Regions from separate parts of the Homo sapiens genome. Here region 1 is linked to region 2. The links come from fine-mapping of genetic effects on gene expression. A gene starts in region 2. The other region holds a variant in brackets. All regions are shown on one strand. Distances are from middle to middle. Region 1 overlaps NFATC2 (nuclear factor of activated T cells 2). Region 2 holds the start of NFATC2 (nuclear factor of activated T cells 2).

Region 1 (4,000 bases), 27 kb after region 2:
TTTGAGACAGGGTCTCACTCTGGTCCCTCAGTCTGGAGTGCAGTGGTGCAATCACAGCTCATTGCAACCTTGACCTCCTGGGCTCAGATGATCTTCCCACCTCAGCGTCCCAGGTAGCTGGGACTATAGGCATGCACCACATTGCTTGGCTGATTTTTTTTGTATTTTTAGTAGAGACAGGGTCTCTCCGTGTTGCCCAGGCTGTCCTCAAATTCTTGGGCTTAAGTGATCCACCCATGTTGTCTTCCCAAAGTGCTGAGATTAAGTCATGAGCCACCACACCCAGCCATAATACTGTATTTTTAGTGTACCTTTTCTGTGTTTAGATAAGTTTAGATACTCAAATAATTCCCATTGTGTTACCATTGCCTACAGTATTCAGTACAGTCACATGCTGTACAGGTTTGTAGCCTAGGAGCCACTATACCATATAGTGTAGGTATGTAGTAGGCTGTGCCATCTTGGTTTGTGTAAGTGCACTCTGATGTTCACATAATGGTGCATTTCCCGGAACGTATCCTCATTGTTGAGCAATACATGACTGTATCCATGATTTTCAGAAAGGGCCGTTTACAATTATTGTACAAGTTGACTAATTTTGGTTTATTGCACACATGGCTGATTTTATTTTCTCCTTTAGCATCCCAGTGACTGCATCCCTCCCTCCACTTGAGTGGCCGCTGTCCAGTCAGTCAGGCTCTTACGAGCTGCGGATCGAGGTGCAGCCCAAGCCACATCACCGGGCCCACTATGAGACAGAAGGCAGCCGAGGGGCTGTCAAAGCTCCAACTGGAGGCCACCCTGTGGTTCAGGTATGGACTTGAATGCTCTTCCTTTTGTGTGTGGTGTTTGTCACTAAGAGATTCACTTCTGCTGACCCACTGTTTGTTGCTTGTTAAGGTGAGGTATGTGTCTCAGCCTCTTACTCCTTTGAGGAATGAGAAATATGAGATTAAATTAGCATTAGAAGCTAATCCAGCTACTCATAAGCCAGAAGAGAAAGTCTTCTTCAGCAGGATAAGGATAGAAATGATATTCATGTGCCCGGATGCTTCTTCCCTTCTCTTTCTGATGGAGAAACTGCTAGAGTTTTGCAGAGGTTTGTGTGTTGACAGAAGGTTTCTGAAACCATCACCTTAAGTTTCAGATGAAGAGTTCATTAAGAAAAAATGGTAATTTTTGTAAAATATAGAAAAGTAAGAAAAATTAAAACTATACATTATCAAACTACCTAAAATAGCTATATTAGTATTTTTATATATTGCCTTTCTTTTTTCTATTCACAAACACGCCAGCCTCTGTTACCATATATTTCTATTCTTAATTCTATAGTGAACATGTAGATTGTACTCTGATTTTTTAAGTTTACATTTTGCCATGAGCATTTCCTTTTGTTTTTTTCTTAATCAGTAGCTTTTTTGTGTGTCTGTGGCTTTTGATTTAACCTCAGATTTTTTTTTCAAAATAAGTAGAGAAGTGTGCCTATTTTTCCCCAAAATAATTGGAGTTGAAATATTCTTAATTGTATAATCTGGTTAACCAGGAACAACTGACTGGTGCCCACTAACAAGTCAATTAACTAGAACCTTTAATACATTTAAATTAATATAACTTTTTTTGGTATTTGCCTTAAAGTAGAAGTATCCTATTAATATGATAAAACTTGGTTCTTAATCTATAGTGTGCATCAGAACCTCTAGGGTGGTTCTTAAAAATTCAGATTGTTGGGCATTCTGAAACTAAATTAGAAACTATATAACATGAGTAAAGCCCAGGTAAACAAACAAACAAATGAAAAACAGCAAACTCCCCAAATCTCCACAGGTGCTTTGGGTGTGTACCTCTGATTAAGGACATCTATGATAATATTAAGAACTTGTAAGTCCTGACAATTGCTTTTTTTTTTTTTTAAATCAGACACCATAGCCATCTTGGAATCTGTTTCTATTCATTGAGTTTTGGTTCTTGACCATGAGTCCCATTTTCCTGTTGTGTTGCCTGTCTAGTAGTTGTCGACTGCATTCTGACATCGTGATGATATATACTGGATGTGGTAGACATTCTGAACTTTCTTTCGTGCTTCATCAGGTGGATCTGTGGAAAGCACAAGGTGTATCTAACTTGATGGGGCTTAGATTTTAAACTGTCTTCTCTGTATTTTATTTGAGGATTGGTTTTAGGCCCCATTAGGGCAGGCCTGGAGTAGCCCTTCCTCTGAGGCATGTGCCTGTTCTGAAGGCATGGCCATTTTGGATGCTTGGTGGGGAGGTCTCTTTAATCTGGTGGGCTGGAATTCCCATATGCCAGCTCCGCTGCACTCTTAGTCTCTCTGTTCTCTCCACCCCATAGCAGCCCCTCTCTGGTAAACCTCGCACCATCTCTCCCTGTGCTTACACAGCCCAGCCCTTGGCCAAAGAGTTGAGGGTTTCCCCCAGCAGCTTCCTCCTCTCTGATGC[C/T]ACCGATTCCAGCAGTTTCCACAGCCTGGCACTCTGAGCGGTGCCAGGAATCCAGGATTATTTCAGGAATCCTCAGCACAGCGGGACCACTGTGCTCTGCTCAGATGCTACTTCCTGCACGTGGCAGGGGAGCTGTCCCCAGGCAGAGAGCTGAAATGAAGGTGGGCTCACCTGTGCACTTCCTCTCCCTTGGGGACCGCAGTCTTCTGATTCCTGCCGTCCAATCCTGAGAGCAATTGCCTTATGTAATATATATATGTATTTTTTGACAGAGTCTATCACTCTGTCACACAGGCTGGAGTGCAGTGGTGTAATCTTGGCTCACTGCAACCTCTGCCTCCTGGGTTCAGGTGATTCCTCTGCCTCAGCCTCCTGAGTAGCTGGGATTACAGGTGTGCGCCACCATGCCTGGTTAATTTTTGTATTTTTAGTAGAGACAGGGTTTCACTATATTGGTCTGGCTGGTCTTGAACTCTTGATTTCAAGTGATCCACCCACCTCGGCCTCCCAAAGTGCTGGGATTATAGGCGTGAGCCACCGTGCCTGGCCAAGTGCTCTGTTTTATGTGTCCACAGCTCCATGCACCTTTCCTTCATGCTACCTGCCACTACTTGTAATTCTAACATTTGCATAATTATTTTGTCAATGTCTCTCTCTCTTAGACCATGAGCTTTGTTTAAAAGAGACCACAACTTCCTTCTTATTCTTCATTGTATATCACCATCAAGCACAGTTTGCTGCCACAAACATAGCAGGCACTCAACAAATACTTGGAGAATGAATCTGCTCATTAAATGCATTGGCCAAACAATTTTAAGTCTTAAGGAGAGAGAATCTGTATCCATTTCTGGCTTTGTGGCATCTTCATTCACTGATTATTCAAAAGATGTTTATTGAGCACCTACTATGTACCAGGCATGGTGCTTGATTCTGGGTTATGATATGAACAAAACAGCTGGAAATTCTCACCATCATGAGCTTACATTTTGGCAAGATGATAGTAATAATAAACATTTAGAAAACATTTGCTGCCTGTGAGATCCTGTTCCAAGTGCTGCATATGTGTTAACTTATTTAATCCTCAAAAGAGCCTTATGATGCAGGTAACAGGTCAAGTAGCTGTCAAGGACTTGTTCAAGGTTATGGCTATTAAATGGTGGAGCTGGGATTTGGATACCGCAAGCTCTATTTGCAGCACAGTAGATCTGATCATCCACGTCTCTTTGCAGACCAGCTCTTCCTGCCTTCTCACTTGTGCAGAAAAAGCCTGAAGGGGAAATGCCCACGCCTCCTGCGGGCCACTCCATTCCCCCTAGTTTTGCATGCTGTTCCAGTATGAGCCTTGTCATCACCTCATGGGAGCTAAATCCTGATTCTCAGGGAGATGCTGATTGGCCCTGTCTTGGGAGGGTGCCGCCCATTGGTCCAGTAGGCTGTGGCCTGGAGGTTGGGCTGCATGAGGAGTGAGGCTCAGCTCACCCATTCATCAGGGGCTGGGGCCCTGGAAATTTCCAGAGAAGGGAATGGGCTGAGTGTACAGTCCA
Region 2 (4,000 bases):
ATCCATCTCTTTCTAGATACCTGTCTATAAGTATCCTAGCTGGGGTCTTCACTCTTCCTTCCTCCACCTAAATGCATCAGCTGCCCCCAAGATGCTTGTTGGATACACATGGCACAGAAGTGCTTATAGTTAGGAAACAAAGGCTGGAATTTCTTTATGCTCTGACAACCAGGAGGTGCTGCCCAAGACTCTGAAATGATTCCTGAGCCAGCCCCCAGGCCCCTGCAGTAGAGTTTGAGTCTAAACCAAAGTGGTTCTCATCTCTGGCCACACATTGGAAGCATCTGGTGAGCTTTTACAAAATACTGATGCCTAAGTCCCAACCCCAAACATTCTGATCAAATCGATGTCTGGTGGTGCTCAGGTCGTTGAATACAAATTTTAACAGCTCTCCAGGTGATTCTAATGTGTAGTCTGGGTTAAGAACCACTGGTCTGAGTGCAATTTTGAAAACCCCGTTCATAACTGTGCTACTTTGCTTTCAGGGCATAAGCATGATGAAGGGAGAGGCTGTGGCTTGTTGATGGTTGCATCCCCAACATCTTGTGGCAGTGCCAGGCAGGTGCTCAATAAATATTTGTGGAATGATGGATGGCTTGGCACAAATCCCCTTAATGGAGCTGAGATGGCTCCCCTGAAGAATGCGTGTCCTCAATTCCTCCTGGCACATGGGGAAGGATTCGAATCACTTGAGGTCAAGCTGTGGTTCTCACGAGGATCTTAAGACCTCTCCCGTCTAATCTTCTCATCCTCAACACTGGCTGCACCTTAGATTCATCTGAAGTTTAAAAAAATTTTCAGGCCGGGCGTGGTGGCTCACACCTGTAATCCCAGCACTTGGGGAGGCCGAGGCGGGTGGATCACGAGGTCAGGAGATCAAGACCTTCCTGGCTAACACAGTGAAACCCCATCTCTACTAAAAATACAAAAAAGTAGCCAGGCATGGTGGCTGGCGCCTGTAGTCCCAGCTACTCGGGAGGCTGAGGCAGGAGAATGGCGTGAACCCAGAAGGCAGAGCTTGCAATGAGCCAAGATCGCGCCACTGCACTCCAGCCTGGGCGACAGAGCGAGACTCCGTCTCCAAAAAAAAAAAAAAAAAAAAAAAAAAAAATTAGGAATTCTGCTTCAGTGGGTTTGGATTGCAGCCCAGCACGGGAGTTTAAAAAGGTGTCCCAGGTGATTCTAATATGTGGGAAGGGTTGAAGACCACTGTTTTGATCTTTTCTACCTCTGTGAGTCTGTTTCCAACTTCAGCTAAGTTGGTGGAGCCCCCTGGCAGAGTTTTATTGGAGGGTGTTCTTTAGTTACTGGGTCCTTATGCAGTGTTTGCCAAATGTACCTGTTCATTAATGCTCACGTTGGGTGCTTAATTAAAAATACACATTCACGAGTCTGTATTCAGACTTATGGAATCAGAAGCTCCAGGGAGGGGCCTGGGAATCATGCTTTAAACAAGCAGCCAGGCGTGTTTGTCACTTGCCAACCGCCCCATCAGAACTGTACTCCTCGTTCTCCCTCCAGCACACCCAGCCCCTTCGAGCTCTGGCTCTGTGTTTTGGTTCTCACTGCCAGAACACACTTCCCCAAGATCGCCTCATCAATCAGGTTTCTTCAAATGTCACCTCCTCAGAGAGGTCCTCCTTGACCACCCAAGGGACTAAAGCCACCCCAACCTTTATCCCATACCCTGGTGAGTTCTCTCCTGGCCCCATAAGCAGATGCTTTTTGTCCTGTTTCTCTCCTTCAGGCCTCTCCCACTACCAGAGCCTGAGCTTCCGAGGGCAACAGTGTCTGGCTCCGGCTGGGTGCCCAGCACCTGGCACGTGGTAGGTGGCCAGGAGGCATAGCTGTAACGGGGGGGACTAGTGCTGTCAGTCCGATTCCTTCCTAGGCGCTGGGGAGTTGAGTTCAGGGCCATGCAGGTGTCTGAAGTACTGTGAAAATCATGCCGCCCCCGTGGGCACACGGAGACGCCTGGAGACACGGGTCTGCAATAGAAGGGGGTGGATACCCCCTTCCACCCCATGGAGAAGAAAAGCAGGAAAAAGTGTGGGGCCAGTGGGTCCCTTAGGGCAAAAGTCCTAGTGGCGGCAGCTTTCTTGTCTAGACCCTGGTTCGCGCAGCGCGTGTCGCACTCACCCGTGGAGGGTGGGAGACAGCGGCCGCCCCAGCGCCCAGCGGTGGCCCGGGACAGTGTGGTCAGGTCCGCGGACAGCCTCCTTCCTCCCGGCACCGGCCAGCCCAGGCCGCGCGCCCCTCCCCTCCGGTCCCCTGGTGGCGGCCCCGCCCCCGCCGGCCTGGCCGCCCTGTCCCCGCCTCCACGCCCCCCCCCCCCCCGCCTCCCCGGGCTGCAACAGGTGCCTCCGGAGCAGGAAGCTCGCGCCGCCGTCGCCGCCGCCGCTCAGCTTCCCCGGGCGCGTCCAGGACCCGCTGCGCCAGGCGCGCCGTCCCCGGACCCGGCGTGCGTCCCTACGAGGAAAGGGACCCCGCCGCTCGAGCCGCCTCCGCCAGCCCCACTGCGAGGGGTCCCAGAGCCAGCCGCGCCCGCCCTCGCCCCCGGCCCCGCAGCCTTCCCGCCCTGCGCGCCATGAACGCCCCCGAGCGGCAGCCCCAACCCGACGGCGGGGACGCCCCAGGCCACGAGCCTGGGGGCAGCCCCCAAGACGAGCTTGACTTCTCCATCCTCTTCGACTATGAGTATTTGAATCCGAACGAAGGTCGGTGGAGGCTACCCCTGGCCTGGCCCCTGAGCCCGCCAGGGGCTCAGGCCTGGGGACTGGGCACAGGAGTCCTCTTGGCTCCAGCCGTCCCCCTTCCTAAGGGGCCTGGAGGGAGGGTGCCCCTACCCAGGTGCCAGGGAGGGGAGGCGTCAGTGGCCCCTGCCACCCTTAGGGGGCGGTCGGCTCCCTCTTGCCCCTTAGGGGCACCAGTTTCTGGTTGCTCATGACTGCTCCCTGAGGGTCACTCTCAGCAAAACAAAAGGTGGCAGGCAGGTCCCAAGGCTGGGGGGCGGGTGCTGTCTGCTGGCCTCTTGCCTGGGACTGGGCTGTCAAAGGGCAAGGGACATGATTTCTGTGCCTTTGGAGGGAGGAGGTGAGGAAGCGAAGAATGGAGTTAGCAGGGAGGAGTTGCCAAAAAAAGAAGGAAGGGGGGTGCAGCTGAACCCAGTTATCAAGGGTAGGAGGCCGCTCCTTCCCTCCAGGCACTGAAGTGAGGCCACGCAGCTCCCATCACCTCCTGTGAGCAGTGGTTGACGGGGACTTTGTGTTGAAACTGAGGAAGAGGTTGTCTGTCTGATGCTGGAGAGGGTTAAAACCTTTGGTATTATAAGGCCGGCCCATTTCCTCCCTGGGTTCTGCTGCTGAACCCATCACTTACCACTCACAAGAGGATTGGTCTGAGCTATATTAAGTGATCTTCTACGCTTAGTCCTAATGGATGTGGTGGGATGGGGTAGGGTGAGGGGCAGCTGCAGCATGGATTCAGAAGGACACAGGCTCTTTCTGCCTGAACTTTGTCACTCTGTGCCTCCAACTGCCCTCAGTTGCTGGGGGCTGGGGACTTCCCCGGGCTGGGCCCAATGCTTATCTGTCACTTCACGTGTTTAACAGGAGCATTCGTTAGAGGGAGGAGGAGGAGGAGGGGGAAGCGGCCACACGCCCAACCTCACTGTGTATTTCTGGTTAGCAGGTTGTCTTGGAAAAAACAAAAAACCCAACCAGGCTTCCTGATTTTGACAGCCCAGCCCAGCCCAGCCAATGCTTGTTGAAGGCTCAGTGGCAGGCCTGTTAGTAGCTTCCAGACGCACTCTGGGCTTGCCTCCATCTAGTGTGTAGGAAGGGCTTGTGCTGACTGGCTCGTGGAGGAAGCCTGTCAAGGAGGCTTGGTGGCCTGATGTTTCCCACAAACACTGTGTTAGGCAGATAATGAAGTTTTCGCTTCCATCGGTGTCCTCTCTGGCCACGTTAGGTGAGGGGTTTGCTTTAGCTTTGGGTATCCT

The links. PIP is the estimated chance that this variant, and not a neighbour inherited with it, causes the effect.
Region 1: its variant is the best candidate, but not a certain one, in a credible set for the expression of NFATC2 in whole blood (INTERVAL, PIP 0.68).

What each region holds. Positions count from the first base shown.
Region 1 is chr20:51,513,596-51,517,595 of GRCh38, reverse strand. NFATC2 (nuclear factor of activated T cells 2) reads left to right here. Exons shown (of 11, transcript NM_012340.5): 3 at 641-812. Among named protein-coding and RNA genes, the nearest start is that of NFATC2, 27 kb to the left of the region's middle. The variant C/T (reference allele first, on the strand shown) is at 2,457.
Region 2 is chr20:51,541,087-51,545,086 of GRCh38, reverse strand. NFATC2 (nuclear factor of activated T cells 2) reads left to right here and starts at 2,368. Exons shown (of 11, transcript NM_012340.5): 1 at 2,368-2,717. The coding sequence starts at 2,588. RefSeq lists silencers at 2,354-2,513, 2,524-2,633 and an enhancer at 3,398-4,000.